Regions from separate parts of the Homo sapiens genome. Here all the other regions are linked to region 1. The links come from fine-mapping of genetic effects on plasma protein levels. A gene starts in region 1. Each other region holds a variant in brackets. All regions are shown on one strand. Distances are between the middles of the regions.

What was found. PIP is the chance, under the fine-mapping model, that this variant and not a neighbour inherited with it causes the effect. Protein levels are from antibody-based Olink assays in UK Biobank. Linkage for the fine-mapping came from a reference panel and not from the study's own genotypes, which makes the PIPs less certain.
Region 2: its variant is fine-mapped to the plasma level of the BTC protein (UK Biobank, PIP above 0.99).
Region 3: its variant is fine-mapped to the plasma level of the BTC protein (UK Biobank, PIP above 0.99).

What each region holds. Positions count from the first base shown.
Region 1 is chr4:74,791,640-74,802,231 of GRCh38, reverse strand. It overlaps BTC (betacellulin), which reads left to right and starts at 7,709. Exons shown (of 6, transcript NM_001729.4): 1 at 7,709-7,970. The coding sequence starts at 7,907.
Region 2 is chr4:74,697,410-74,708,001 of GRCh38, reverse strand. No RefSeq gene overlaps it. Among named protein-coding and RNA genes, the nearest start is that of BTC, 92 kb to the left of the region's middle. The variant T/C (reference allele first, on the strand shown) is at 3,898.
Region 3 is chr4:74,710,064-74,720,655 of GRCh38, reverse strand. No RefSeq gene overlaps it. Among named protein-coding and RNA genes, the nearest start is that of BTC, 79 kb to the left of the region's middle. The variant C/T (reference allele first, on the strand shown) is at 4,919.

The DNA of each region.
Region 1 (10,592 bases):
CATGTGCATGTGTCTTTATGGCAGAATGATTTACATTCTTCTGGGTATACACTCGGTAAAGGGATTGCTGGGTCAAGTGGTATTTCTCTTTTAAGTTCTTTGAGAAATCTCCAAGCTGCTTTCCACGATGACTGAACTAATTTACATTCCCACCAGCAGTGTATGTGTTCCCTTTTCTCCGCAAACTTGCAGGCATCTGTTATTTTTTTGACCTTTTAATAACAGCAATTATGACTGGTGTAAGATGGTATCTCATTGTGATTTGCATTTCTGTAACTACTAGTGACATTGAGCATCTTTTTATATGCTTGTTGGCTGCTTGTAAGTCTTCTCTTGAAAAGTATCTGTTCATGTGCTTTGCCCACTTTTTAATGAGTTGTTGGTTTTTTGCTTGTTAATTTGTTTAAGCTCCTTATAGATTCTATACATTAGATATTTGTTGAATGCACAGTTTGCAAATATTTTCTCCCATTCTGTAGATTGTCTATTTACTCTGTTGGTTGTTGCTTTTGTTGTGCAGAAGCTCTGTAGTTCAATTAGGTCCAATTTGTCAATTTGTGTTTTTGTTGTAATAAAATCTTTACCAGAGCCTATGTCCTGTCTTAGCTTACTTTAACAAATACAATAGATCGAGTTGCATGTTTTCCTCCAATGTAACCTGTATTCCATACATGACTGCAATGAAGAGCAAAGGAAAAATAACTCATACTCTATTAAAACGTGCATTCAGCAGGTGGTAACAGAGATCCAAGTTGTTTTGGATTATAGGGCAAATATAAAATAATTCCATTAATTCATAACAATATAAATGAATGATTGAATAAATAAATATAAGAGAATAGAAAAATCTTTGCAAAAAATGCTAAATAATTTATGTTGATACTCCTCCCTCAGAAAGGTGGAGCATAACTCTCCACCAGTAAGTATGGGCTGGACTTAGTGATTTCCCTCCAGAATACAGTATGGGGAGTAGGAGGAGGTAAAGAATTACTTACTATGGAGAAACCTGACAAAATGAACTCAACCAGGTGACCAAGGTCAATATCAAGAATAGTTATCATGTTGACATTATTCACCCTTCATAAAATCAGTAGAAATGATATTTTATCATTGTGGTCTTCTTCCACCAAACCAGAAAAACCTAACCATGAGAAAAACCTCAGAAAAGACACAATTGTAGAACATGCTATGACATACCTGATGAGTACTCTTTGAAACTTTCAAGGCCAGCAAAAGCAAAGTCTGAAAAACTGTCACAGCCAAAAGGATCCTTAGGACAAATGACGACTAAAGGTAATGTGGTATCCAGGATGGGACACTGGAACATAAAAAAAAAAATTAGACAAAAACAAAGAAAATGTAAGTAAAATATGGACTTTAGTTAATAGCAATGCACTAATGTTTGTTCCTTAGTTTCAACAAATGAACCTTACTAAGGTAAGCTATTAACAATAGGAGAAACTACATGCAAGATGTACAGAAACTCTCTGTAACATTTTTGAATTTCTCTTTGAATCTAAACGTTTTAAACATAAAAAGCTTTATTAAAAAGAAAAAAGTGGCAGAGCTAAGCCTGTCTAATTCCCAAACCCAACTCTATGTTATGAACTGAATGTTTGTATTCCCTCAAAATTTATACATTGAAGCCCTAACCCCCAGGGTGACTTGGATATAGGATTTTTAGGAGGTAATTAAGGTTAAATGACGTCATAATAATGGAGTCCCAACCTGATAGGATTGGTGGCCTCATAAGAAGAGAAAAAGCGAGATCTCCCTATCTCTCTTCATGTGAACATGATGAAAAAAGGCCATGTGAGCTCACAGTGAGAAGGTGGCCATCTGCAAGCCAGGAAAAGAGACCTCACTAGGACTGAATCACCGGATCTCATACTTCCTAGCTTCTAGAACTGTGAGAAGATAAATTTTTGTTGTTTATGCCACCCAGTCTATGGCATTTCGTTATGATAGCTTGAGCCTTACTGCCTTTAGACCTTGATTCTAGGAGTTACTTTGAAAGTTGGACCAATCACTTGACTATGCAGACATCTATTTCCTCTCATTAAGATGAGAATAATAATACTGCCTGCCTATCTCAGCAGCTACTTTAAATTCAAATCGTTAATATATGGGAAAGTATTGTACAAATGTAGATAATTAATTCTTATTAAATTAAACGGATACTAGTTTTTCTTATCTCCCAAAAGCCTAAACATAGTAAATTTAGAGAGTAATGCTGGTTTTATTTTCTAAGGTTTAAACTTGTTTGCATTTGTGGATTATACTCCTTGGATCTCAAAACTAACTAGTTATGTGGACCATTATTAGGTGGTAATGCTGGGGACAAAATTATTAAAAGTATCTTACAGAGATTCATAGGGACAATAATAAGAACTTTCAATATACCTTAAAGACAAAGGACAGTAACTTCAGAATATTTTGTAAGCATGATATCATATTTTCTGCTAAGTCATTTCTGAAGAGTTTACATTAGTTTTAGCGTTTTAAAAATACTGTATTTATGGACAGATGGCAGGTATATATTATAGGGCTAAAGAAATATTTCCGAAAAAATTACACTATGAGAAATATAAAAGCAATTTAAATGTATCATTAAAGGAAGACATGTAGTTATCTCTGAAAAAATCTTAAATTCCAAGGATTGTTAGACTAAAGATATAACTGAATTGTTTGGGGGAATCATAAGGACCATTAAATTATTTTGAGGTTAATAACATGTATATTGATGTCACCTTAAAACAAAGGAAGGATGAGAAACGAAGATGATACAAGAGGTAGATTTCACCTTTTTTTTAACTCCTTTAACATATCATTCTGCATCTATGAAAGATTTTTTGAAGAATTATTTTAAGCTCATCCTCCCTCTCTTCTCCAGCTTTGCTGCTTCTCATTTCTTACTCTTTCCTGTCACCATTTCTCCTTACCAAGAAGTTGGGGGAAGGAGGGAAAATGACCACGTAAAGCTGTGTTAGTTTGTTGTAAACTCATTAAGCATTCATTATTTGGCTGGGTGCGGTGGCTCACACCTGTAATCTCAGCACTTTGGGAGGCCGAGCTGGGTGGATCACCTGAGGTCGAGAGTTCAAGAACAGCATGGCCAACATGGGGAGACCCCGTATCTACTAAAAATACAAAAATTAGCTTGGCGTGGTGATGCATGTCTGCAATCCCAGTTACTTGGGAGACTGAGGCAGGAGAATCACTTGAACCCGGGAGGCAGAGTTTGCAGTGAGCCAAGATTGCGCCATTGCACTCCAGCCTGAGCAACAGAGTGAGACTCCTCTGTCTCAAAAACAACAACAACAACAACAACAACAACAAACATTCATTTTTTGAGTTAATTTTTGAATTTATTTCTTTGCATTCTGGGAAACTAGGTAGCTCATTTATTTAAATCTTCAAATCACAGTACTTTGTTTATATTCAACACGTTTTTGTATCCTGGGTTACGTGCTATCTTGGTCTCTAAAGAGAGTTGAAGGAGGAAGGAGAAATAAAAAGGATGGAGAAGGTGGTCAGAGAGGTGTAAGGGAGGTGTAAGGGCATATGAAGAGGCAAAATTGTACCCAAATCCATGGAATTTTAGCTCAGTGTTACTTTCCCAGCAGAGCCTTGCTCTGTGCCTTTCTTTCTCTACTTCAACTATTAGTAAGAGAGGGTTAGTAAGGATGCCTTTTCCTACTGGTTCTCTCTATGTACCATGTAAAATTTTATAATGACATAACAACTATCAGTGGAACATGGTGGCTCATGCTTGTAATACTAGCATTTTGGGAGGCTGAGGAGGAAAGATTACTTGAGGCCAGGAGTTCGAGACTAGTCACATAGTGAGACACCCATCTCTACCAATACTACTACTACTAGTACTCCTACTCCTACTACTATCAACTATAATTCACTGAACAGTTTCTAATACACCAGATTTTTTCCTTGAAGATATGTATTATTGGGAATCATAAAAACTGTGCAAGTCATTACCATCACATTTTATCAATGAGGAAACTGAGGTTCAGAGAGGTAAGTAGTTTGTGGTTCAGTCATTGGGTGACACAGATCCAAATTGAACAGACTGAACAGATTCCAAAACCAATTGTACATAATATTCCAGCTCTGTTGTCCCACCTAGAGGAGTGTCTACCTTGCTGGAAGTCTGGGACCAAGTAGGAAGAGATGAAGCCACTGTGGCAAGGACTTTAGGAAGAGATGTCTAGGGCCACATAGGTGCTTTCTCACTTAGCCTACAACTAGGGCCAGCACAAAAGCCCAGATTTTTTAAAATCAGAAGTTACTTTTTGAAGTATGTTTCAATATGGCCAAAGAAAAAGATCATCATGGTGAACTGAAACTAACAGGTATAATGTCACAGAGACAATTATTTTTGAGGTTTAATAACATATGTTAAGCTGCCATTTAAAAGAGATAGCAAGTCAGCCGGGCGTGGTTGCTCACGCCTGTAATCCCAGCACTTTGGGAGGCCGAGGTGGATCTCCTGAGGTCAGGAGTTCGAGACCAGTCTAGCCAACATGGTGAAACCCCATCTCTACTAAAAAAAAACCACAAAAAATTAGCTGGGTGTGGTGGCAGGTGCCAGCAATCCCCAGCTACTTGGGAGGCTGAGACAGGAGAATTGCTTGAACCCGGAGGCAGAGGTTGCAGTGAGCAGAGATCACGCCATTGCACTCCAGCCTGGGGGACAAGAGCAAGATTTTGTCTCAAAAAACAAAATAAATAAAAATAAAAGAGATACAAATCAAACACATTGAGAAATACATATAAAAAGTGGATCCCCTAGACTGAAGAGGAAGATACAAGAAAGTAGGCAGGAAAAAAAATAACTACCTCCCTCAGAACAACTAGATTATAAAATACAATTACCTGAATACAACTTTTGAGCAGTGATTTTTCACTGATACATTCTTAGAAACCAATTCAGTAGTTTTAAATAAAATATTTGAAAGTTCTCTCTATGTAACTGTACCACTAATAATCTACAATGCATGATGCTTATCATTACTATAAAAATTACAATTTTAAAAATGCCTTTCATCATTTTCATTCACCCACTCTTATTAAATAAAGTTAATGGTCATTAGGAAATTTTCCTATACTACTGAATGCCTTAAAGCCTTCATTTGGAGAATACATGTTGGCCTAGAAGGAATGCATTCCAAAATTTTCCTTTCCATCATGGCGTGTGTCTGTTTATGTGTTGTGCCCTATATGTAACTACAAGTTTATTTTGTCCTGTCCAGAAGACGGGGAGGACGGTCCCAGCTGCAGGCTGTTCTGTGTGGGAAGAGAAAAAGGCTGATGCTTAAAGGCCCTCCAAAGGAATCTACTTAAGCCTCATACCAGATTTGGGAGGACTGGTTATACCTGCCTAAACCTGGCACAGGAAGAACAGCACTCAAGCAATTCCTACCTTGGGGTTAACTAGGAATACAAGTTTCACCTTGTGACTCTGGTGTAACTTTGGTTTATTTTTCTCTTAGTAACAGCTCAGCTTGCAAATGAAAGCACTGAGACGCAACTCAGTTACATGTTTGAGGACTCAGGAAAATCAATTCTTACCTTCCACTCTTCCAAATGTAATGGTTGTATTCCAGCTTTACCATGCCCCATAAGCAAATGACTTGAGAGAGAGAGGTGGTTGGGGGCTGGGGGAGAAAAAGAAGAAGGAGAAGGAGAGGGAAGAAGAGGAGGAAGAACAGAGAGAAAGAAAGTGAGGGGAAAAAAAAGAAACAAACAAAAAAAGACAGGAAAAGTCTCTTAACATTGAAGAGATTGGATATCCAGTGTCAGAAAATTTGGATTTTCTTGGGAGTACTTATTTTATTTATGGTGGTAAATAAAGCCCTCAAGGAAGGTTATTAATTTATCTGTCCTATTTAGTATATTAAATTATACTACTTCATATTCTAGTGGCCTGAAAAAGTTAATTTACCACTTGAATGGCATAAATGATGAATACTTACACCAAGTCCTGGAATTTTCCAATGCTCAACAAACATTTAGTACTTTTTGTTTAGGTCTCGCTTTTTTTTTTTTTTATTAGTATCTACGAAAAAGGAAAACAAAATTGTAGCATTCTGTTGGGGCTAACAGGACAGCTGTTGGCTAGGCTAAATGCCATCTTGGAGTAAGAGATACTTTAACTTAGGGCACTGGTGCTGAGAGATGGAGAGAATATCAGAAAAGAAAAATGCAGGGTGGAAGTGTTGAGAGGGAGGGAGATGATGTCAAAATCCATTGGCTTCCAGTGTTTCTGCTCTTTTTAGCTGGGGTGCAGTAACCTTCCATCTTACAACTTTGGGTTTCTTTAAACTTCATGCCTGCCCTCTCTACCAATGTTTTATGAGCTGTCATGTGGGACTAGAATGGGATTCTGAAAATTAAGAGCTGATTTTTATTCCACCGGATATATCAGTTGCCTGGGGCAGTAAAATAATTTAGTTTTGAAATGAAATGTTATTCGTGGGAGACAAGTGCACAACAATTTACTTAACTTAAACAGTAGGATGAGGAGGAAGAGGCAGACACCCAAACTACATTTCATATGTAAAATAAGGCTTACATGACTTTTGGATGCTATAGAAATAAAATTTCTGTACTGAGGGGCATAATTATCCACATAAATCTTATATGAGGAACACAGACCAGTACAAAAGCAGCTGTATCTTTTGGTTATCTTGGAGGCAATATATAACCACATAAGGTAAAATTGGATGCTGCTTGCTTTCTCTAAAAGCTGTGAGGATGTCTTTCTGTTCCAGAAATTGCTTAATGCAAGTAAATGAAAATATACTGAATACATGAGTAAATTCATAAACAGAAATACAAATGAAATTTCTAAAGTAGGTCCTGGTGAGCCCCAATTTTATGAATTATTAGAAGACAATGCACCCAGAAACTAAGACACTAGCTTGAAGACTTTTTTCATTTCTTTTCTTTTTTTTTTTTTTTTTTTTTGTTGCTGATGTTGTTGTTGTTGTTGTCGTTGTTTTGAAACAGTGTCTCACTCTTGCGCCTTGGCTGGAGTGAAGTGGCTCGATCTAGGCTCATTGAAGGCTCCATCTCCCAAGCTTAAGCGATCCTCCCCACCTCAGCCTCAGGGAATGGATGGGACTGCAGGTGCACACCACCATACCCGGCTATTAATTTACTTTTGTATTTTTTGTAGAGACGAGGTTTCGCTATGGCTTCAAGACTTTAAAAGGCAACAATGACTCTTTTGAAATTGCCTGCATTATCAAATGCCTGAAGTCAACCACAATGAATGGTGAGTCTGGTTTCTCCATGACACTAGCAATCCTCTGAAATAAAGGAAGTTAGAATTCCAGAACACGTTTGGGTCTCTGACTCTTCCTCGGTGGCTTCCAGGAGTTTAGGTCAGCCTGCAGGCCCGACCGGAACCCCCGACACCCCTCCACGCGGATTCTTTACATCTCCCTCCCTACCTTGTTTACGCCCTAGGGGGTAGGGAAATGAACAGTCAGTCAGGTGAGACCCAGCAGGGGGAGTGGTGAGCTGGTCCGAGGGCAGCCCGAATATGTCCCTGGGTGTGGGTATGGGTGTGGGGCAATTTGGGTGGGAGCAGCGTGGAGGCTCCCAGGACCAAGTCCTGCGCCTCTTTGGCGGGGTGTGTGCAGGAGGAGGGGGGATAAATAGGAGGCTCCCTCCTCCCGGCGACATTCACGGAGCCGGCCGGCCTCCCGCCCTGGGTGTTTCCCTGCCTTGTAGCCAGGGTGCCAGCCTGGGAAGTAGTTTCGTTTCCTTCTGCCTCCGGGATTAGTTTCCAGGCACCCTCTCAGGCGCCCGAGGCCCGGGAAGGGGGCGAAGAAGGAGGGAGACTTGTCTAGGGGCTGCCCGGCCCGGCAGAGCGGGGTTGATGGACCGGGCCGCCCGGTGCAGCGGCGCCAGCTCCCTGCCACTGCTCCTGGCCCTTGCCCTGGGTAAGTGGCCGTGCTGGGCACTGGAAACCAGGAGGAAAGTCTGGGGCTGGAGTCGCGGGGAGGGCGAACCCTGAACCGAGCTGGCATCTGGACAAGAGGGCGCGCTGGGGCTGGCAGGCGCGGGTTGGAGAACTTTGAAGGCTGGGAGAGCGCGAGGTTAAAGATCTGGCAATTGGGCACCTGGGGCTGCACCTGCTGGAGGCAGTCCCTAGACGCGTGAGAAGGCCCGAGGGCGGAAGCGATTCCGAGGTCCTCGCTGCCAGTGCTGCGAGCAGGCCGCCAGCTGCTGACTTGTGCGCACAGCAGAGGGCCTGGCGGCGCCGGCGGGCTGTCCACCGGGGTGAGGCGCTGTGCTCGCAAGTGAGGGTCGGGGGGTGGGGGCAGGGGCGAGCAGGGAAACCCACTAAAGAAGCTCACGTGGTAGTATAGACCAAGAAGCATATCCTGCAGGAGGCAGAAGAACGGGAACTCTTTGACTGAAGGTGTGATCACCTGGCGTTAGGGAAGAGTGCCAGCGGGAGGAGGAGTAGCAGGATGCCTAGAGCCCTCCAGAGGGTCTCTCCTGCCTCCTTAGGAGTCAGAACTCACAAAGCAGAGCTGGAACTTCAGATGTGGCTGGAAGCAGGCTTCCCCTTCCCCTCCACCGAGGGAAGGTAGTGAGAAGGCTTCTAAGTAGGAAAAAATCCCAACTCTTCAAAGCTTGCTCTCTGCATCATGGTCATTTTGCGGGGCAGAGAAGGGAAGGGAAACCAGTAACATTTTCTAATCTTAGCTGGGCTGTAGACACATCTGGGTTTGGAGCATTTATGTGGTAGGAGGAGAGTCTCCACAGCTGAAGTGTCACCACGATATCACTCCTACCTTCAAGCCTGGGAAGGGGACACCACAAATGAAAAAGAATGGGAATTCCTCTTATTGAGGAAAGAGAGGGGGAGCCTAAATGAAAACTTTCATTTGACTGTGTCCTTGGAGTAAGAGAGGTGGCTAAAAAGGTACAGTGAACTTGCTTGGAGGTGGATCAGACTTAGGACCAAGGTTAGAGAAAATAAACTTATTTAACAAACGCTGAAGAGGAAGGAGTCAGTAACAATTTAGTGGTAGAGTGAATGTGTACATTCATGAAGAAGAGCAATGGGGTTGAGACTTAACCCTAGAAATAGTACTGATGCTTTTGCCAGCATTGCTTGCAAGTAGCTGACATTCTCTTCCTCCACCGTGTCTAAACTATCCAACAGTCAAAGTATTCCCTGAGAATCTGTCGTAGTCAGCAAGGTGCTGAGGTATGTAGCAATGGAGGTGGGGAAAGGGCTCATGAGATTCCTAAAATAAAACATGATTCCTGCCCTAGAACTTGCACTGAATTTGGATATGCAAGCCCAGCAGGGTAACCTGTGGAAAAATTCACGGAATCAGAAAAGGGAGAAAGAGCTCAACAGCGGGGGCTGGAATAGTGGGGAAAGGCTGAATGGAGGACACGAATGCGTGCCTTGAGGCTTGGGTAGAGTTTGCAATAGTAGAGAGGAAAGAGGGAACAGAGACAAGGGAAAAAGCATTTAGTAAAGGGTTGGCGATGCGAATGAGCATGCTTTACTGGAAAGAGTAGAATTTCTGAGAGGCAGACAGATTATGAAGAACTGAAAAAGCCAGATTAGAATATTTGGAACAGAATCAATAAGCTATTAAACACACACCATCACAGGGCTTGACTGGGAGTGATATGATGCAAACAATGGTTTAAAGGTGATAAATCTGTCAGTGAGGTGCAGTATAGGAAGGGGGGGCGCCTGTGGGCCAGAGGACCTGATTGTCTCGTAGGTATAATCTGGGCATGAGCTACTTGGGGCCTAAATTAGGGTGATGTTTTAGCAGAGGTGTCATAGTAGAAATGACTATTGAAAGTCGATGGACATTCTTTCCCCTTTACTATCACAAAACTTGTCAAAAGACAGAAATGAAAATCAAAAAGCAAAACTCGAATCCAGTGCTATTGTACACTCAGGGTAACCTAAATGTACAACCGCCCTGTTAAATGATTGGCTTGGGAAATTGAATTTGGTCTCTAGATCCCCTTAAAGCTCTATTTCTTGCAAAATGCTAAGGAACGTAATTTGTTGGCATCGCTGTTTCCATTAAGTGGCCCTATTTCTGTCATACACACTTTACTTTTAAGTCCCCTTCCTAAATTATGTCACATGTTGTTCTATTTACTTTTTGAAAAGAATGTGAGCAATAAGATGCATGAGACACTAGTGTTTGTGTGTGTGTGTGTGTGTGTGTGTGTGTGTGTGTGTGAGATGGTGGAAATGCGATGAGAGTGGGCATTGAGCAGACATGAGCCCTGGTTCCAGCTCTACCACTTCATGACTCCGAGATGTCTGTAAGTTACAACTTTCTGGGCATTGTTTTTCTAATTTGTAAAATGAAGAGGTTTCATTAGATGGTGATGCCCTTTCCATGTCACATTCTTTTCAAAAAGTAAACAAAATAACATGTGATTTAAATTAGAAATGGCTTATGTCTATTACAAATGTAGATGCTCCTTAAATACATCTGGCATTTAGTAGATGCATCTTTACAGGATAATTTCCATTCTAACATATGCAAATTAGGTACTACTTTCTT
Region 2 (10,592 bases), 94 kb after region 1:
AGAACTTAATGTATAATAGTAAATAAATCAATTTCACCAGGTTAAAATCAAGGTGTTGACAGGTTTGTACCTGCTCTGGGAGCTACCACAGAGGATGTTCCTGGACTGTCCCAGCTTCTGGAGGCTGTTGGCATTTTCTAGTTTGTAGGTATATCTCTTCATTCATTGTCTCAATCTCCACATCACCTTCTTCTCTCTGTGATAACTTCCTCCTCTGTCTCTCTGTTCTATGGACCCTTGTGATGGCATTTAGGGCTGGCTCAGATAATCCAAGAGTATCTCCTCATCTAAACATCCTTAACTTATTTCTGCAAAGATTTTTTTTTCAAATAGGTAATATTTATGGATTCTGGAGGTCAGTGCTGGATATCTCATTCAGTCCACTACAGCATAATATTATGCTTTGTAGTTAACTAAACTTTTATCAATTTTGATTTAGTAAGACTTTTATTTGCATATGCCAGTACCAATACATTTTTCCAGGTCTCAAACTTTCCTGTGAGTCCTTCAGAAGCTTTTATCCTGGGCACCTTGCTCATAATGATAGAGACTTTCTCCCTACCTAAAGCAAATTTGATTAAAAGAAATCGCATCACCTATAGCTAGAGCAGGTGTTTTCTTTTTTTAAAAAAAAACTTTTATTTTAACTTCAGGGTACAAGTGCAGGTATGTTACATAGGTAAACTGGTGTCACATAGGTAAACTGGTGTCATGGAGGTTTGTTGTACAGATTATTTCATCACTCAAGTATTAAGCCTAGTACTTGGGTGATGAATTACTTAGTTATTTTTCCTGATCCTCTCTTTTCTCTGACCCTCCATCCTCTGAAAGTCCCCAGAGTGTTTTGTTCCCCTCTATGTGTTCATGTATTCTCATCATTTAGCTCCCACTTATAAGTGAGAACATGTAGTACTTGCTTTTCTTTTTCTGTTTTACTTTTCTAAGAATAATGAACTCCAGCTCCATCCATGCCCCTTCAAAGGATATGATCCCATTTTTTTATGGCTGCATAGTGTTCCATGGTGTATATGTACCACATTTTCTTTTTCCAGTCTATCCTTGGTCGGCATTTAGGCTGAGTCCATGTCTTTGGTGTTTTTCTAAGAGGTATTTTGCAGAGGGAATTGCTAGGATGCGTTGGCAAAGGAGGAGACTTCTGTCTACAGAGTTCTTGAATTTCATATTTCTGTGGCAACAAATAAGAGAATTACAGAGAGAGTGAAATAGTTAATGTTAACTACAGCTCAGACAGAGAAGCATTAAACTTTAAACCTCAAACTTTAAGCAGATTGTTCCATTTGCCAGCTCTCAGGGGCTTACTGTGCTGCCAGGCACTATACACAGTCCTTTTTACTTACTAGTTCCACTGCTCAGACAATTTCTTCAAATGACGTATAATCTCTTCTTATAGATGAGGAAGCAAGGTACAGAGAGGCTAAATAATTTGTTCAAAGTCACCCAGCAAGTGGATGGCAGAGGCAGAATTTGAACCCAGGTCTGTTTAGCTATAAAGCCCAACTTATCTTGTATGTACTATGCTGTATCATTTCAAAAAAAATACATAAAGCACATGACAAAGAAATTAAAACTGTAGCCTAAATCACAAAAGATTATAACCAGAATAGAGGCTTAACCTCTGTCACCCCAACTTAGTTTTCATTCATTCTCTGAGATAGGGAAACAATAGTCGATACCATTACTTGAACTACAGATGTGTGTGGTTATTTACTGTTTGATAGGACTATATATAATTGATTTCATTATATAAGTTTTGATCTTTGCAACTAAACTTTTTCTGTAATCTTTAGTCTTTGAGTGTCTTGAATTAGAAAGAACTTGCTCAGATACCATTCATATCCAAACTTAATGTATTCTGTTAATATTAACAGTCATTATCACTGTGCCCATAGTGGATGAGCCAGGAAAACCATTATCTCATACTAAAGAATTTCCCAAATGTTGGAATCTTGTTCAATAATTATACATTTCTCTGTGCTATTTACTATAGTATTATTTACTTGATATTCCTTTATTTCCTGTGTTTTAAATTCATAGTTATTTAAAAGGCAACTATATCACTATCGTAATTAGAATATCAGCATCTCTATAAATAGAAGGCAAACAACAAATATTAATGCAACGAAAAGGAAACAATATTTTAAAATTCTGGATAGATAGTATTAACTGCCCATGGAAAAGGTTTTGGACTTGCTTTGTTATTGTTAGAAAGGGAGATGAGCAAGTCTTTGAGAGCTGGTAAATGCACAATGGCATTGACCCCAAATTTCCTCCTTGATAAAATCTGAGGATTGAATGAAATTCTCATTCAATCCCAGCAAAAGGAGTAATTTTCTCACTAGATAATCAATATACTTATGTATGTGTTGTGAACCACATGAACACATCTTGCTATCACCCGTGACTGTCCTCCGCCTTGTGGTATCAGGCTTGAAATTAAGATTCAGCATTATGTGCTTCTTTGCCATCTGAAACTGGGAGAGTTTTTAATGGCCTAATCACAAGCTCCCCCCTCCTCCACTCTACTCCTGTGGATAAAGTCCTCCAGCCAAACAACACTACTTACCAGAGGAACCAGGCACAGTGTCTGTTTATCCCTCAATAGCAGGCTTTAATTCTGGGCCTGCAACATTATTAAAACAAGCCAAGCACGTGCTTCTGCAGGAATCAAGGGTCACCTCACCCTCTTGGTACTACAAAGCCTGCCTCCCACAACTCTGCTTGTTCACTGTGTTCCCAAATGCAACTCACCCCGCCGTCCTGAGTGGAGTGCAGTGTTCTTCCCCAGTCTGTGCATCTATGTGACTGATAAACTGCTGGGATATAATCTGCCCAGTGCTGGGCGTTGTGTGTTCTGCCATCCCTATAATTCCAGGGTGGGAATGCCTCCCTCACCAATGGAGTGAAGAAGAGACAATCAAAACATACTCCAGTTTGGGAAATAGTGCCATCCTATAGAATGGCACCCAAGCAGATCATCTTCCTATTTATAGGATCCCACTCCTTCCTTAAAGGAGCACCAGATCATCACTGGAACAGAAAGACTACTACAAGTGTCATTTGGGTAGTAAGTTCTTGAGATGAGGGAATCTTTTATCTCCTCAAGAGTCTTCATTTAACCTTATGAAGAGAAACAGTGAACTTGGTTTGGCACGCCATTGGTAGGTTTTTATCTACAAGGTCTGATGTGAGGACTTTTTATGCAAATTATCTTTTCTTATTGTCCTGCCAAAGTAGTTTTAACTCCTGTGAGCCCAACACTTAGCATTAAAACCTCTTATTTTCCAAAGATGACTGACAAAATGCTAAAAGTTGTGCTGTATGCAGTTAAAAGCATAGATTCTGGATGCTCAGGAATCAGACTGCCTGGGTTCAAATACAAACCACTTATTTGCGTGTGTTTGGGCAAATTTCTGAACCTCTCTGAGCCTCAGTTTTCCTACTAACAGTACCTTTGTCATGGGATTTCAGTGAATATTAAACGAGTTACATAGAAAGAGCTTAGAATAATACCTGGTACATAGCAAATGTTCAAGAAATGCTAGCTATTATTACTAGAGAGGCAGCAACACAGTATACCTTTAACACTTGTTAAGTAAGAACCAGAGGCAGTAAGAACCTGAGGAAAAAGGAAACTTGACATGCATATACTGAGGGGAGTATGGGCATAGGGTACCATCCAGAGCTGCTGGGACACTGCAAGGGAGGTTTATAGAAGACAGAAGGCTCTGGGTGCCTGGGAAAGGAGGAAGAAATATGAAACAGGCAAAAAAGATGGGTGCAAATAAGCTTCACCACCCTTATCATTTTCATGCAGGCTGGCTTGTCATTCCACATATTTGGCATTCAAGAAAAGATGTTGGTTACAAGTTTAACAGA[T/C]TGACAGAATTTTATGCTGTCTTCCTTCTCTGATGCATTCTTGCATCCTCCCTTGCTTTGTAGTTACTTCTGTGCATATAATTTTCTACTAGTTTTTAACCTCTGTAAGGGCAAGAAATATATCTTCTGATTTTTTTTTAATTTCCCACTGAAAGTAGCACAGTACCTAGCACAAAGAAAGGAGATAATCAAATACATGTTGAATTAATTGCTGTGGGTGCTAGTTTGGATACTAATTGAACTTCTGTCATCAACAAACTGAAAGCACCGTTGTTTAAACAAAATAGAAGTTTAGTAATATTTTTCTGTCATGTAACAGCTGAAAAGTAGGTGGCTTTGTTTCATGATGTCATTCAAAGAACCAGGATCCTTTAATCCCATGGCTTTATTACTCCCTAGGGATTTGCCTTCATCTTGGGGTGGTCAATGTTGTTCAGTCCAAGGAGTGAGGAAAAGAGCAGTGTAGGGGTTGCAGTTTCCTTTGGGGAATAGCTTCTGCTCACACACTCTTGGCCAACACTCAACCACACAAACTCACTTAGCTGGGAGAAGTGGACTGTAGAAGAGCAGCCATTCACTCAACTAATACTCAGAGATATAAAGAAAGAAGGAGAGAACGCTGTTGTGAAATGATTAGAAGTCTCAGCACACTTTGCTAATTCTGGAATATTCACCCAACACTTACTTTGTGTGCCTTAAGTGCTTCTTAAGAATAGAGATTAGATGGGAAAGGAGAGGATGAGAATTTTGACTCTAGCACCCTCCTGACATAAGGAGGCTTTGTGTGCCTCAGCCTCTGAACCAGGACCTCTATGACTGACACCCAGCTATTCCAGGAAGTCACAGATCCTCAGGTGATTTTTGGTCTGAGGCCAAATGGCCTGTGCCATCCATACCTTGAAAGCATTTTTTTTCCCCATGAAAGAAAAATGTAAAGGCAAAGGGGAGCTGGAATTACATGTTAAACATGGTATGATCCTTCAAGAAATAAATGTGCATATTTTTGTTTCTGATGCAGTTCTACCAAATATAGAAAGCATTTCAGAATTCTCTAAGAGCAATCCTAGATTGGAATGTAAATGTAGACTGGAGAAATAATTTTTAGCACAAATAGACAGACACATAAATGTGAACAGTCTTTCTAATTCAGGAGTTTTCCATTTTTAAGTCATGAAAACTTTGCAATTAAAAAATTTTGAAGCATGAATCAAATGACTAAACTTTACTGATGTGAATGTACAAAGTAAATGACAATAAAACTAACAGTCCGTGTTTGGGGACAATCCATGACTGTCGGATAGTCGGAGGTTTTAGAGTTGGAATAACTTTTCTCTTCTTTCTTTGCTTTTTACCTGATTCATGCAATTCAATTATAAGGCAGTCTGCCTGTATGTGGTCACAAAGACTTTCTGTGCTCATTTTTTAGCTTCTTAATTATACTTGAGGATAATTGCCCTAATATAGTATGTAAATGGGAGTGTAATTGTTGAGTTAGGAGAATAGAAAATAACTGATTTCAGAAATAATATTCGTATGAAATGTAATCATATAAAAATTTGAATAATATTACACACATACACACACACATACACACATTATCTTTAAAAAAAATTCCTTAAAAGTCTAGGGTTATTCTTTAGCTGAATCTCTTTGAGTTTGAGGTTAGAATAATTGGGGTACTCTTATTCACCCTGATATGATTTCTCCATGAATGTACCCAAACAACCAGCAGCTGAAGGGATAATGCTGTGTTCACAGACTCTGCAGCCTGGGATCACAGGACACTGACAGAAAGCTGCATTTCCACAAAGCAACCTTTCCCTCTGAAGGCATCTTTCCCCTCTGATGGGTCACTCTGGGGGAGCTGCTCGTGCAGGTCTTAGCACGGCTGCCTCCTGTTACTGAAGTGTCAGCTCTTCTTAAAGAAGCTCACTGTGACTATCTTTCTTAAAGTCACTCTTTACCTTACCCCAGTCACTTGGTGATATCATCATTTGATTGTCCTGTCTGTCTCTGCTTCCATTAGACTGTGAACTTGATGGCAGGAACCATATCTGTAGGGCATAGCTATGTCTCCTGTGCCTAGAACAGTGCTTGGCACTGAACAAGTACAGGATAATTGTTGGTTGGATAAACAAGTGATCCTTGATTGTGATTTATACTTCATCCTGGTGACTTTTACTTTACTATATCTTCACAATGAAAAGTGTGATTATTGTAAATGGCACATTTATTACTTAGGAGATGCAGCTATTGAAGGAGAGGCCCAGAGAATTTAGGCAATGTTCCCAAGGCACACAGGATGTGTGCAGCTGGAATCACAGGCCAAGTCCTTCCTAGTCTAGGACTCCTTCTCTTTCAGCTCCCTCAAGTTGCCTCCCAATCTGATGAGAATCCAGTGATGTAAGGTATGTGAAAATACCTTGGAGAGTGTAATGGATTATGGAGGAGATATCTTTATATATTTTTTAGTATACAAAATTCTCACTGTTGAAAATAGTTATTTAATGGCAAAGTGTTTTCAGCCTCTAAGTAGAAATAGAGATGCTGTCAGGGTACTCGTTGGAAAAAAACTATGCTAAGACAATGCCTTTCCACAGCAATGTAGCTTAGCGTGTCCATTAATAAATTGGTTCGCAGTTGTGTGAGCTTGCAGAACTGATATTTCTAGTGATCTGAAACAAGTGTGGAGAAGGTGATGAATAGAATTTAGTGAGGTTTTTTGCTTAATCATTGATTTAAATGCATTTTTATATTGTTGAAATCATCACAAATTTACAGAAAAGTTGCAAGAAAAATACATAGACCTTTTTTCTTGAAGCTTTTGAAAGAAAGTTTCCAAACGGGTGTCCCATCATTTCCAAATACATTAGTGTGTATTTCCCACAAAAATGACGTTTCCAATATAACCACAATACAACTATTAAAATCAGAATATTAATAGTTATACATTATTTCCATTGAGTTCTTAGGCCTTATTTAACTGTCTACCCCATAGCAAAATAATTTTATAAATTGAGTTTGTATTTCATTTTAAATTTTCTTTAAAAACCTCAAAAAGAGCCATTGTCTAAATAAATTACAAATAATTGATATTTTTTGTGGCAAGTTAGTTTTGGCCACATTACAACTATATATGGTCACTTAGATGTAGAAGAAATAAAATTCTGATGGTTTTAATATTCCTTAATTTATTCCTTAATATATCTTAACATTTTGACAGAACTGAAGGCACCTGTACTCACCGTGAGCTTGTCTGACTGCCACTCATGTGAGGACCTTCTTCAGAGTATTCTTTATGCAACAGTTTCTATCTTCTCCTCAAGACAGTTCTGCTGGTGCCACAGACTAGTCTGAGCTGAGGGTTTCTTACTTTCTCAGGAACAAACAGAGAACCCCAACCCCCACCCCCAATCCCTCCCGTGTTCATCTCCACAGCTGGTCATGTGCTCTGTCAGCAGGTTTTTAAGCAAACAGTAGGTTTTGGTTTTTGTTTTTGTTTTGAGACAGAATCTTGCTCTGTCACCAGGCTGGAGTGCAGTGGTGCGATCTTGGCTCACTGAAGCCTCTGACTCCCTGGTTCAAGCGATTCCCCTGCCTCAGCCTCCCGAGTAGCTGGGACTACAGGCCTGCACCACCATACCCAGCTAATTTTTGTATTTTTAGTAGAGATAGGGTTTCACCATATTGGCCAGGATGGTCTCAATCTCTTGACCTCGTGATCCATGAAGCAGCCTTAGAATAGTCATGCTATCTAAGGCAGATACATTACCGGAATGTAGTTCTATTACTTAATACAACATGCAAGAACTTAACACATGTCTCCATTCATTCCCCCCAAGTAAGCAGAATTCTACTGAGAAAACAGTATTGTGTTTTTTTTTTTCTGATTACAAGAATGACATAAGTAGTTATATTTTATTTAGATAGTATGGAAAAACAAGTAAATAGATAAAAATGTTCAGAAGACATAATCTTCGTAAACATAAATACATACTATAACCTGTTTTTTTACTTAGGAAAAAGTTATTAATTATGTCCTATATTATTGATATGTCATACACCAGAATTTCCCAAACTTTGTTCTAGTGAAACCAGGGCATTGAAATTGATAATGAAATAAGTGAGGGAAATGCAGTATCCTGTACTTCCTTAAATAAAGTAAGCTGTTTAATTTGCTTTAACTTGGTGTTTCCCAAACCATTGTTCATAGGACTGACTTTTGATCAAAATCTTTTAACACACTTTGATAAATACTCTTATTTCTAAAACATATACTTTAATGACTGGAGCATGTAGTCCACATTATGTCAGTTAAGAATTAATTCACATCCAAATGGCAGAAGATTCAATCACAGTAGTTCCACCAGATAGGAGTTTATTTTTCTCATGTCATAAGAAGCGTGGCTCTGGAGCAGCTTCTCAATGGTGTCATAGGAGCTCTTTCTGTCTCGTTCCACCATTTTAAAATTTCTACTTCACTGTTGTAAAATGCCTGCTACACCTCCAGGTATTAATTACCTAGTCTAGGCAAGAAGAAAAAGGAAGGGGTCAGGAAGACGGAAGGACCAAAGGGAACGACAGCCTTTGGCCAGACTGTCCCTTAAAAACCAATCATATTTCTTGGAAATCTCACCAGTAACTTCTACCCATGCCTCATTGGCCAGTTCTGGGCTACTTGATTACCCTGAGCTACAAGCATGTCTGGGAAGGTGAGTGCTTTAGCTTTCCAGCCCCCGCAATTGAGGAGGTCAGGAGAGGGGCATAGGGAAGAGCCTTTGGATAGACAAACCACCACATTTACCTTTACCCATTCCCTTGGCTACCCAACATTCCCAGGCCCTTGTTCCTCATTATTGCGGGTCTCTCGCCTTTCCAGTGAAGACCACACCAAAGTTTCATTCAGTTACCACATCCAGCTTGAAATTCAGGACCTCTGTGTGATATGCTGTCCTATTTGTCAAATCTGAGTGTAGCTTACGTTCTAGTGACTCATAAGTCAAAAGTTAATTATCTGTCTTCAATGTGTACAACATACAATGATGGAGAAAGAATTTTCATATAAAAAATGTGATAATGGCAAACAAAAAGCAGTTTCTATCTGTAAAAAATAGCAAATCTTGTTTGTTAAAAATTGCAGGGATAGGCCAGGCCCAGTGGCTCATGCCTGTAATCCCAGCACTTTGGGAGGCCCAGGCGGGTATATCACCTGAGGTCAGGAGTTCAAGACCAGCCTGGCCAACACAGCGAAACCCTGTCTCTACTAAAAATATAAAAATTAGCTGGCCATGGTGGCAGACACTTGTAATCCCAGCTACTTGGGAGGCTAAGGCAGGAGAATCACTTGAACCTGGGATGCGCAGGTTGCAGTGAGCTGAGATCGCACCATTGCATTGCAGCCTGGGTGACAAGAGCAAAACTCTGTCAAAAAAAAAAAAAAAAAAAAAAGAATTGTAGGGACCACCGGACTTGGAAAAGACTGCACTTCTTGGTTAACCAAACTGGCAGTTCCTAGTTCTGCCACAGTGAGATTCCTCATTGTTCATTGTCCTCCATGAACACAGGCAAGACGACTTTCTGGGAGCCTGCACATCTTTTTCAGGTCCTTCCCAGTGGTACAAGTTTAAGGACCCTAATCCCGCTTTATGGATTAAGCACTCACAAGGTTACCATTAGCCAGGGCTGGGATTCCTCTGTCACTACAGTTTCTTTAAAAATTTAGCTTTCTTGTCTATTTTCTCTGGATTAATTCCATGTGTGAAAAATCATAGCCAAAGACTTGTGTCTGGTGGCAGGCTCCTATGCCCATCCTTCTCTTCCTGAGATAAAAGTCATTATTACCTTAAGGCAAGGAGGAAAACAGTCTCTATTGGGGCACCTCATGTCTTTCATTTGGAAATAATCTTCTTGCCCAAACTCACACTTCTTTCTTTGCCTCCAGATATACCCCATATCATGGCCATGCCCTGGCTAAAATATCCACCCCCTACTTTTTCTACAAATCTTGCTCTCCTCTTTCATGTACATGCACAGGTCTGGTTTTAATAAGAGAAAATGCAACCTGAAATCAGTAGGCTCACAAGAAGAAAATGATTTAAGTTTTCTCCCACGACTTCCCTCCAACATTCTGTTTCTTATCTCCCTTCCATACCTTAGATGACATTTTAGGCAGAGCCCCACATACCTATTGGCTTCAGCTCTTAAATAGCAGTCATTTTTGTTGACTCTAAATTTCACCAAAGGCATTAAAAAGTGCAGTACAGTTAATATTTCAATGTCACATGCAATTAAAAATCTTCCTCCTCCCCGGTAATTTCTGTCCTGACTTTTGGCCTGGAGGCTGCTGTGGAAAGAGGGACCATGCCTGTTTTTCATTATTCCTTCACCCATACACTTTCCTGTTGCTGGCTTCAGGAACGAGGAAGTTGAAGTTTAGGGAAGAGAAAGGAAAAATTAAAGGAAGAGGTATAGAGTTGTATCTGCCTGGAGCTGTGGCGATAGGATAGTTGGTGTCTTCTGTTACCTTTGAGGGAGGCAGTGCACAAACAGCTGGTCTATTGTGAACTTCCCTTCACAGATGTACCCTCTGAAACCCTAGTGCACCTCACTCATTCTAGAAGTGACATGTTTGAATTAGATCTACTTCAACAGCTTATGCTTAACTATTTTCTGTGCCATCACTTAACTGGCAGGAA
Region 3 (10,592 bases), 82 kb after region 1:
CCCTAACATCACAATTAAAAGAACTAGAAAAGCAAGAGCAAACACATTCAAAAGCTAGCAGAAGGCAAGAAATAACTAAAATCAGAGCAGAACTGAAGGAAATAGAGACACAAAAAACCCTTCAAAAAATCAATGAATCCAGGAGCTGGTTTTTTGAAAGGATCAACAAAATTGATAGACCGCTAGCAAGACTAATAAAGAAAAAAAGAGAGAAGAATCAAATAGACACAATAAAAAATGATAAAGGGGATATCACCACCGATCCCACAGAAATACAAACTACCATCAGAGAATACTACAAACACCTCTACGCAAATAAACTAGAAAATCTAGAAGAAATGGATACATTCCTCGACACATACACTCTCCCAAGACTAAACCAGGAAGAAGTTGAATCTCTGAATAGACCAATAACAGGCTCTGAAATTGTGGCAATAATCAATAGTTTACCAACCAAAAAGAGTCCAGGACCAGATGGATTCACAGCCGAATTCTACCAGAGGTACAAGGAGGAACTGGTACCATTCCTTCTGAAACTATTCCAATCAATAGAAAAAGAGGGAATCCTCCCTAACTCATTTTATGAGGCCAGCATCATTCTGATACCAAAGCCGGGCAGAGACACAACCAAAAAAGAGAATTTTAGACCAATATCCTTGATGAACATTGATGCAAAAATCCTCAATAAAATACTGGCAAACCGAATCCAGCAGCACATCAAAAAGCTTATCCACCATGATCAAGTGGGCTTCATCCCTGGGATGCAAGGCTGGTTCAATATACGCAAGTCAATAAATGTAATCCAGCATATAAACAGAGCCAAAGACAAAAACCACATGATTATCTCAATAGATGCAGAAAAAGCCTTTGACAAAATTCAACAACCCTTCATGCTAAAAACTCTCAATAAATTAGGTATTGATGGGACGTATTTCAAAATAATAAGAGCTATCTATGACAAACCCACAGCCAATATCATACTGAATGGGCAAAAACTGGAAGCATTCCCTTTGAAAACTGGCACAAGACAGGGATGCCCTCTCTCACCGCTCCTATTCAACATAGTGTTGGAAGTTCTGGCCAGGGCAATCAGGCAGGAGAAGGAAATAAAGGGTATTCAATTAGGAAAAGAGGAAGTCAAATTGTCCCTGTTTGCAGACGACATGATTGTTTATCTAGAAAACCCCATCGTCTCAGCCCAAAATCTCCTTAAGCTGATAAGCAACTTCAGCAAAGTCTCAGGATACAAAATCAATGTACAAAAATCACAAGCATTCTTATACACCAACAACAGACAAACAGAGAGCCAAATCATGGGTGAACTCCCATTCACAATTGCTTCAAAGAGAATAAAATACTTAGGAATCCAACTTACAAGGGATGTGAAGGACCTCTTCAAGGAGAACTACAAACCACTGCTCAAGGAAATAAAAGAGGACACAAACAAATGGAAGAACATTCCATGCTCATGGGTAGGAAGAATCAATATCGTGAAAATGGCCATACTGCCCAAGGTAATTTACAGATTCAATGCCATCCCCATCAAGCTACCAATGACTTTCTTCACAGAATTGGAAAAAACTACTTTAAAGTTCATATGGAACCAAAAAAGAGCCCGCATTGCCAAGTCAATCCTAAGCCAAAAGAACAAAGCTGGAGGCATCACACTACCTGACTTCAAACTATACTACAAGGCTACAGTAACCAAAACAGCATGGTACTGGTACCAAAACAGAGATATAGATCAATGGAACAGAACAGAGCCCTCAGAAATAATGCCGCATATCTACAACTATCTGATCTTTGACAAACCTGAGAAAAACAAGCAATGGGGAAAGGATTCCCTATTTAATAAATGGTGCTGGGAAAACTGGCTAGCCATATGTAGAAAGCTGAAACTGGATCCCTTCCTTACACCTTATACAAAAATCAATTCAAGATGGATTAAAGACTTAAATGTTAGACCTAAAACCATAAAAACCCTAGAAGAAAACCTAGGCATTACCATTCAGGACATAGGCGTGGGCAAGGACTTCATGTCCAAAACACCAAAAGCAATGGCAACAAAAACCAAAATTGACAAATGGGATCTAATTAAACTAAAGAGCTTCTGCACAGCAAAAGAAACTACCATCAGAGTGAACAGGCAACCTACAACATGGGAGAAAATTTTTGCAACCTACTCATCTGACAAAGGGCTAATATCCAGAATCTACAATGAACTCAAACAAATTTACAAGAAAAAAACAAACAACCCCATCAAAAAGTGGGCGAAGGACATGAACAGACACTTCTCAAAAGAAGACATTTATGCAGCCAAAAAACACATGAAAAAATGCTCATCATCACTGGCCATCAGAGAAATGCAAATCAAAACCACTATGAGATATCATCTCACACCAGTTAGAATGGCAATCATTAAAAAGTCAGGAAACAACAGGTGCTGGAGAGGATGTGGAGAAATAGGAACACTTTTACACTGTTGGTGGGACTGTAAACTAGTTCAACCATTGTGGAAGTCAGTGTGGCGATTCCTCAGGGATCTAGAACTAGAAATACCATTTGACCCAGCCATCCCATTACTGGGTATATACCCAAAGGACTATAAATCATGCTGCTATAAAGACACATGCACACGTATGTTTATTGCGGCACTATTCACAATAGCAAAGACTTGGAACCAACCCAAATGTCCAACAATGATAGTCTGGATTAAGAAAATGTGGCACATATACACCATGGAATACTATGCAGCCATAAAAAATGATGAGTTCATATCCTTTGTAGGGACATGGATGAAATTGGAAACCATCATTCTCAGTAAACTATCGCAAGAACAAAAAACCAAACACCGCATATTCTCACTCATAGGTGGGAATTGAACAATGAGATCACATGGACACAGGAAGGGGAATATCACACTCTGGGGACTGTGGTGGGGTCGGGGGAGGGGGGAGGGATAGCACTGGGAGATATACCTAATGCTAGATGACACATTAGTGGGTGCAGCGCACCAGCATGGCACATGTATACATATGTAACTAACCTGCACAATGTGCACATGTACCCTAAAACTGAGAGTATAATAAAAAAAAAAAAAAAAAAAAAAAAAAAAAGTCAGGAAGCAACAGGTGCTGGAGAGGATGTGGAGAAATAGGAACACTTTTACACTGTTGGTGGGACTGTAATCTAGTTCAACCACTGTGGAAGTCAGTGTGGCGATTCCTCAGGGATCTGGAACTAGAAATACCATTTGACCCAGCCATCCCATTACTGGGTATATACCCAAAGGATTGTAAATCATGCTGCTATAAAGACACATGCACATATATGTTTATTGTGGCACTATTCACAATAGCAAAGACTTGGAACCAACCCAAATGTCCAACAATGATAGACTGGATTAAGAAAATGTGGCACATATACACCATGGAATACTATGCAGCCATAAAAAATGATGAGTTCATGTCCTTTGTAGGGACATGGATGAAGCTGGAAACCATCATTCTCAGCAAACTATCACAAGGACAAAAAACCAAACACCACATGTTCTCACTCATAGGTGGGAATTGAACAATGAGAACACATGGACACAGGAAGGGGAATATCACACACTGGGGACTCTTGTGGGGTGGGGGGAGGGGGGAGGGATAACACTGGGAGATATACCTAATGCTAAATGACGAGTTGATGGGTGCAGCACACCAACATGGCACATGTATACATACGTAACAAACCTGTACGTTGTGCACATGTACCCTAAAACTTAAAGTATAATAATAATAAAAAATAGTAATAATTTATGGGACCAGGCACCATAAAATGTAAAGATATTTTTTTCTTATAGTTACTATTAACCAGTCTTATTTTTCAATTTGTCTTATACAAACCAACAAAAATCCACATCTTATTTCTTTCTAAAACAAAAATCTTATGTGAGTTAATGTACATAACAGATAAAAGCTGAAGGGTGTGGAACTTGGGCTGCCCCTAAGCACATGCTCAGAACCCTCCAAATGCCACTGAGTACAGCATGGAAACTGCCCAACTGGCCCACGGCTCTGATTTCCAATGATGGGAACTGAGGGTCAGAGGCAGTTCATGGTTCACTGAGAAACCCAGTTCTCTTCTGGAGTGTGTCTCAAGTCAGTGAAATTGGTTTCTGTCTTAGCAGGGTAAAAAACATTGTTACATGATTGTGATTTCTCTGATCTCAAGAAAAATGCTTAGTCTTTTCTTTTTTCTTTTTACTTAGCTTGGCTGTTTCTCTTCTCACCCTGCCCTGCTTCCTTCAGTAATTAGTTTTGGAAAGAAAGAACTCACATAGTAAAAATGACCTGGAAACTCAAATTAAAATTTTTTTCTTGCCCACATGGATTTGTGTGATTCATAGTTGCTTTAAACCCGTAGAAATGTGCTTGCACAAATTAGTAACAACTTTTCATAAACAGACTTCATTGTTCACTGCTAAACATATTCCAGTCAGGCTTTAATTGAAAGGAAAGATATGATAGGAATCTATCTCCATGGCAGAAATGCTTTAAAAGTACTTTATGCTTCTGCAATGATCTGTGACAGCTTTTGAAGATGTTTGGGGGTTTGTGTTTCACAACTACCTAGGGAGATGAGAGAGAAGAAATAGAAAGGACAGAAAGCTAAATATGTGGATTTTGAATGATCAGCTTACATGGCTACAGCTGGGTGAGTCTTCGCTTAATTATATGCAGAGGTGAAACTAATGGTGCTGTGATTATGAAACTGAAACTGGTTAGGAAGGTAAATTACCTCTCTCCGTGTGTAACTTGCCAACCTTGTGGATTAGTCTCTACCTGAATAGAAGACCACATGTAAGGTCTTGATAAGAATAATAAAGACTTATAGTTACGTAGAATTAATCTTGAGTTAAAACAAGGTTCCT[C/T]GGGCCATCTCACAAGTCTAAGGGAGACCAAGCATCAATGTTGCTGTAGGCCAGGCATGGTGGCTCATGCCTGTAATTCCAGCATGTTGTGAGGCCGAGGCAGGTGGATCACTTGAGGTTAGGAGTTCGAGACCACCCCAGCCAATATGGTAACAGAGCAAGACTCTGTCTCAAGAAAAAAAAAAAAAAAGTTGTTGCTGTTTAAATGGTATGTTTTGTTAGAAAGTGTTAGAAAGTGTGTCAGCACTGATTTGCTCAGTTATACCATGATAGAGACCTTAATAAGCCATACTCTATGGTGCTCTTTGCTGCTGTAGTGACAGAGTAAAGGGGGGGCAGTCAGTATGTCTAAGGAACCAGGCCGGCAAATCTTAGAACAGGTTTTGGGCTCAGTCAATACAAAGGAGGCTTCTTTGATGGCAAGTAAGCACTGAAGCAAAGTAACTGGGGTCCAAGATTCCATGTTCGAACATAAATAGAAACTAAGTAAATTTAGGGTGTTCCTCTTTATTTCTATTTTTTTCTGATTTGAGAGGGGATTATTGCTTATTGTTAAAAAATTCAAGATACACAGAAAAGTATAAGATGGAAAAAATTGTTCCATGCCACAAGCCAGCTGTAATGTCAAAGAGATTTTGACATTCTGAGATTTTGACATTCTACTTATGAGATTTTGACATTATACCTGTCTACTTGTTGTACTTGGGATTACCTAAATACATTTCATAACTTGGACAGAGTTCTTGTGAAAATACTAATTAATAGTAAAGCTGGGCCAAAAAAAGTTATTCTCATCAAAAGTACATTTATTTTTTCTCTGGCCATGTGCTTAATCTCCCTATTCTGGTATGTGGGAGGGAGGGCAATGCATCTGTGGTTAAACAATGAAATAGCTGTTACTCCCAATTACTTAAGCTGGCAGTTAATTAATCCAACTGGGAGTGTTTCCAAGTAATTAGAGAGCATCTCAGGACCCACAGACTCACGAACATGTTAAGACATTAATATTCCTAGTATCTTTTATTTTTAGAGGCTTTGCTTTTCACCATATCAGATATATTAAAATATAACCACACTTCCCATATTATGTATAATTTTTGGCTGTTTAATTTATGAAAGAATTTTTATAAAGTTGGGAGTTGTTAAGAGTTGATAGTCTTATGGTGTGAAGTTCATTATGTTATTGTTATGATAGCTGAGCTGCAGACAAGTTGGCATCTGTGTTAGTTTTCTATAGCTGCTGTAACAAACTGGGTGGCTTAATACAAGTGAAATTTATTCTCTTGGAATTATGGAGGCCAGAAGTCCAAAATCAATTTTGGCTGGCAAGATGGCCGAATAGGAACAGCTCCAGTCTGCAGCTGCCAGCGAGATTAATGCAGAAGGCAGGAGATTTCTGCATTTCCAACTGAGGTACCCAGCTCATCTCACTGGGACTGGTTAGACAGTGGGTGCAGCCCATGGAGGGTGAGCAGAAGCAGGATGGGCGTCACCTCATGTGGGAAGTGCAAGGGCTTGGGGAACTCCTTCCCCTAGTCAAGGGAAGCCTTGAGGGACTGTGCCATGAGTAACAGTGCATTCCAGCTCAGATATTGTGCTTTTCTCATGGTCTTTGCAACCTGCAGACCAGGAGATGCCCTTGGATGTCTACACCACCAGGGCCCTGGGTTTCAAGTACAAAACTGGGCAGCCATTTGGGCAGACATCAAGCTAGCTTCAGGTTTTTTTCATACCACAGTGGCTACTGGAATGTCAGCGAGACAGAACATTTGACTCCCCTGGAAAGGGGGCCGAAGCCAGGGAGCCAAGTTGTCTGGCTCAGCAGATCCCACCTCCATGGGGCCCAGCAAGCTAAGATCCACTGGCTTGAAATTCTCGCTGCCAGCACAGCAGTCTGAAGTCAAATTGGGAAGCTCCAGCTTGGTGGGGGGAGGGGCATCCACCATTACTGAAGCTTGAGTAGGGATTTTTCCCCTCACCATGTAAACAAAGCCACTGAGAAGTTCAAACTGGGCAGAGCCCACCACAGTGCCACAAAGCTGGTGTATCCAGACTGCATCTCTAGACTCCTCCGCTCTGGGTGGGTCATCTCTGAAAGAAAGGCAGCAACCCCAGTCAGGGGCTTATAGATAAAACTCCCACCTCCCTGAGACAGAGCACCTGGGGGAAGGGGCGACTATGGGCGCAGCTTCAGTAGACTTAAACGTTTCTGCCTGCCAGTTCTGAAGACAGCGGTGGATCTCCCAGCACAGCGCTTGAGCTCTGCTAATAGACAGACTGCCTCCTCAAGTGGGTCCCTGATCCCTGTGCCTCCTGACTGGGAGGCAGCTCCCAGCAGGGGTCAACAGACACGTCATACAGGAGAGGTCCAGCTGCCATCTGGTGGGTGCCCCTCTGGGATGAAGCTTCCAGAGGAAAGAACAGGCAGCAATCTTTGCTGTTCTGCAGCCTCCACTGGTGATACCCAGGCAAACAGGGTCTGGAGCAAACTCCAGCAGACTCCAGCAGACCTGCAGCAGAGGGGCCTGACTGTCAAAAGGAAAACTAAGAAACAGAAAGGAATAGCATCAATGTCAACAAAAAAGATGTCCACACAGAAACCCCATCCAAAGGTCACCAACATGAAAGACCAAAGGTAGATAAATCCATGAAGATGAGGAAAAACCAGCACAAAAAGGCTGAAAATTCCAAAAATCAGAATGCCTCTTCTCCTCCAAAGGATCACAACTCCTCACCAGCAAGGGAACAAAACTGGATGGAGAATGAGTTTGACGAATTGACAGAAGTAGACTTCAGAAGGTGGGTAATAACAAACTCCTCCAAGCTAAAGGAGCATGTTCTAACCCAAAGCAAGGAAGCTAAGAACCTTGAAAAAAGGTTAGAGGAGTTGCTAACTAGATTAAACAGTTTAGAGAAGAATATAAATGATCTGATGGAGCTGATAAACACAGCATGAGAACCTCATGAAGCATACATAGGTATCAATAGACAAATCAATCAAGTGGGAAGAAAGGATTTCAAAGATTGAAGATAAACTTAATGAAATAAAGTGTGAAGACAAGATTAGAGAAAAAGGAATGAACAAAGCCTCCAAGAAATATGGGACTATGTGAAAAGACCAAACCCATGTTTTATTGGTGTACCTGAAAATGATGGGGTGAATGGAACCAAGTTGGAAAACACTCTTCAGGATATTATCCAGGAGAAATTCCTCAATGTAGCAAGACAGGCCAGCATTCATATTCAGAAAATGCAGAGAACACCACAAAGATACCTCTTGAGAAGAGCAACCCCAAGACACATAATTGTCAGATTCACCGAGGTAGAAATAAAAGGAAAATGTTAAGGGCAGACAGAGAGAAAGGTTGTGTTAATCACAAAGGGAAGCCCATCAGATTAACAGTGGATCTCTCTACAGAAAGCCTATAAGCCAGAAAACAGTGGGGGCCAATATTCAACATTCTTAAAGAACAGAATTTTCAACCCAGAATTTCATACCCAGCCAAACTAAGCTTCATAAGTGAAGGAGAAATAAAATCCTTCACAGACAAGAAGATGCTGAGAGATTTTGTCACCACCAGGACTGCCTTGCAAGAGCTCCTGAGGAAAGCACTAAATATGGAAAGGAACAACCGGTACCAGCCACTGCAAAAACATACCAAATTATAAAGACCATTGAAACTATGAAGAAACTGCATCAACTAAAAAGCAAAATAACCAGAAAACATCATAATGACAGAATCAAATTCACACATAACAATATTAACCTTAAATGTACATGGGCTAAACACCCCAATTAAAAGACACAGACTGACAAATTGGATAAAGAGTCAAGCCCCATTGGTGTGCTGTATTCAGGAGACCCATCTCATGTGCAAAGACACACATAGGCTCAAAATAAAGGGATGATGGAATATTTACCAAGCAAATGGAAAGCAAAAAAAAAAAAAAAAAAAAAGCAGGGTTGCAAACCTAGTCTCTGATAAAACAGACTTTAAAACAACAAAGATCAAAAAAGACAAAGAAGGGCATTACATAATGGTAAAGGGATCAATGAAACAAGAAGAGCTAACTATTCTCAATATATATGCAACCAATACAGGAGCACCCAGATTCATAAAGCAAATTCTTAGAGACCTACAAAGAGACTTAGACTCCCACACAGTAATAGTGGGAGACTTTAACACCCCACTGTCAATGTTAGACAGATCAATGAGACAGAAAATTAAGAAGGATATTCAGGACTTGAACTCAGCTCTGGACCAAGCAGACCTAATAGACATAAAAGAACTCTTCACTCCAAATCGACAGAATATACATTCTTCTCAGCACCACATCACAGTTATTCTAAAACTGACCACATAGTTGGCAGTAAAATACTCCTTAGCAAATGCAAAAGAATGGAAATCACAACAGTCTCTCAGCCTACAGTGCAATCAAATTAGAAGAAGGATTAAGAAACTCACTCAAAAACATACAACTACATGGAAACTGAAAAACCTGCTCCTGAATGACTACTGGGTAAATAACAAAATTAAGGCAGAAATAAATAAGTTCATTGAAACAAATGAGAACAAAGGCACAATGTACCAGAATCTCTGGGACACAGCTAAACAGTATGTAGAGGGAAATTTACAGCACTAAATGCCCACATGAGAAAGGGGAGAATGATCTAAAATCGACACCCTAACATCACAATTAAAAGAACTAGAGAAGCAAGAGCAAACAAATTCAAAAGCTAGTAGAAGACAAGAAATAACTAAGATCAGAGCAGAACTGAAGGAGATAGAGACATAAAAAATGCTTCAAAAAATCAAGGAATCCAGGAGCTGGTTTTTTGAAAAGTGTACCAAAATAAAAAGACCACTAGCCAGATTAATAAAGAAGAAAAGAAAGAAGAATCAAATTGACAAAAAATGATAAAGGGGATATCACCACTGATCCCACAGAAATACAAACTACCATCAGAAAATACTAAAAAAACCTCTATGCAAATAAACTAGAAAATCTAGAAGAAATGGACAAATTCCTGGACACATACACCCTTCCAAGACTAAACAAGGAAGAAGTCAAATCCCTGAAAAGACCAATAACAAGTTCTGAAATTAAGGCAGTAATTAATAGCTTACCAACCACAAAAAGCCCAGGACCATACAGAGTTACTACCAAATTCTACCAGAGGTACAAAGAGGAGCTGGTACCATTCCTTCTGAAACTATTCCAAACAATAGAAACAGAGTGACTCCTCCCTAACTCATTTTATGAGGCCAGCATCATCCTGATACCAAAACCTGGCAGAGACACAAACAAAAAAGAAAATTTCAGGCCAATATCCCTGATGAATATTGATGCAAAAATCCACAATAAAATAATGGCAAACTGAATCCAGTAGCACATCAAAAAGCTTATCCATCACCATCAAGCCGGATTCATCCCTGGGATGCAAGGCTGGTTCAACATACGCAAATCAGTAAACATAATCCATCACATAAACAGAACCAATGATAACAACCACATGATTATCTCAATAGATGCAGAAAAGGCCTTTGATAAAATTCAGTGCCCCTTCATGTGAAAAACTCTCAATAAACTAGGTACTGATGGAACGTATCTCAAAATAATAAAAGCTATTTATGACAAACCCGCAACTGATATCATACTGAATGGGCAAAAG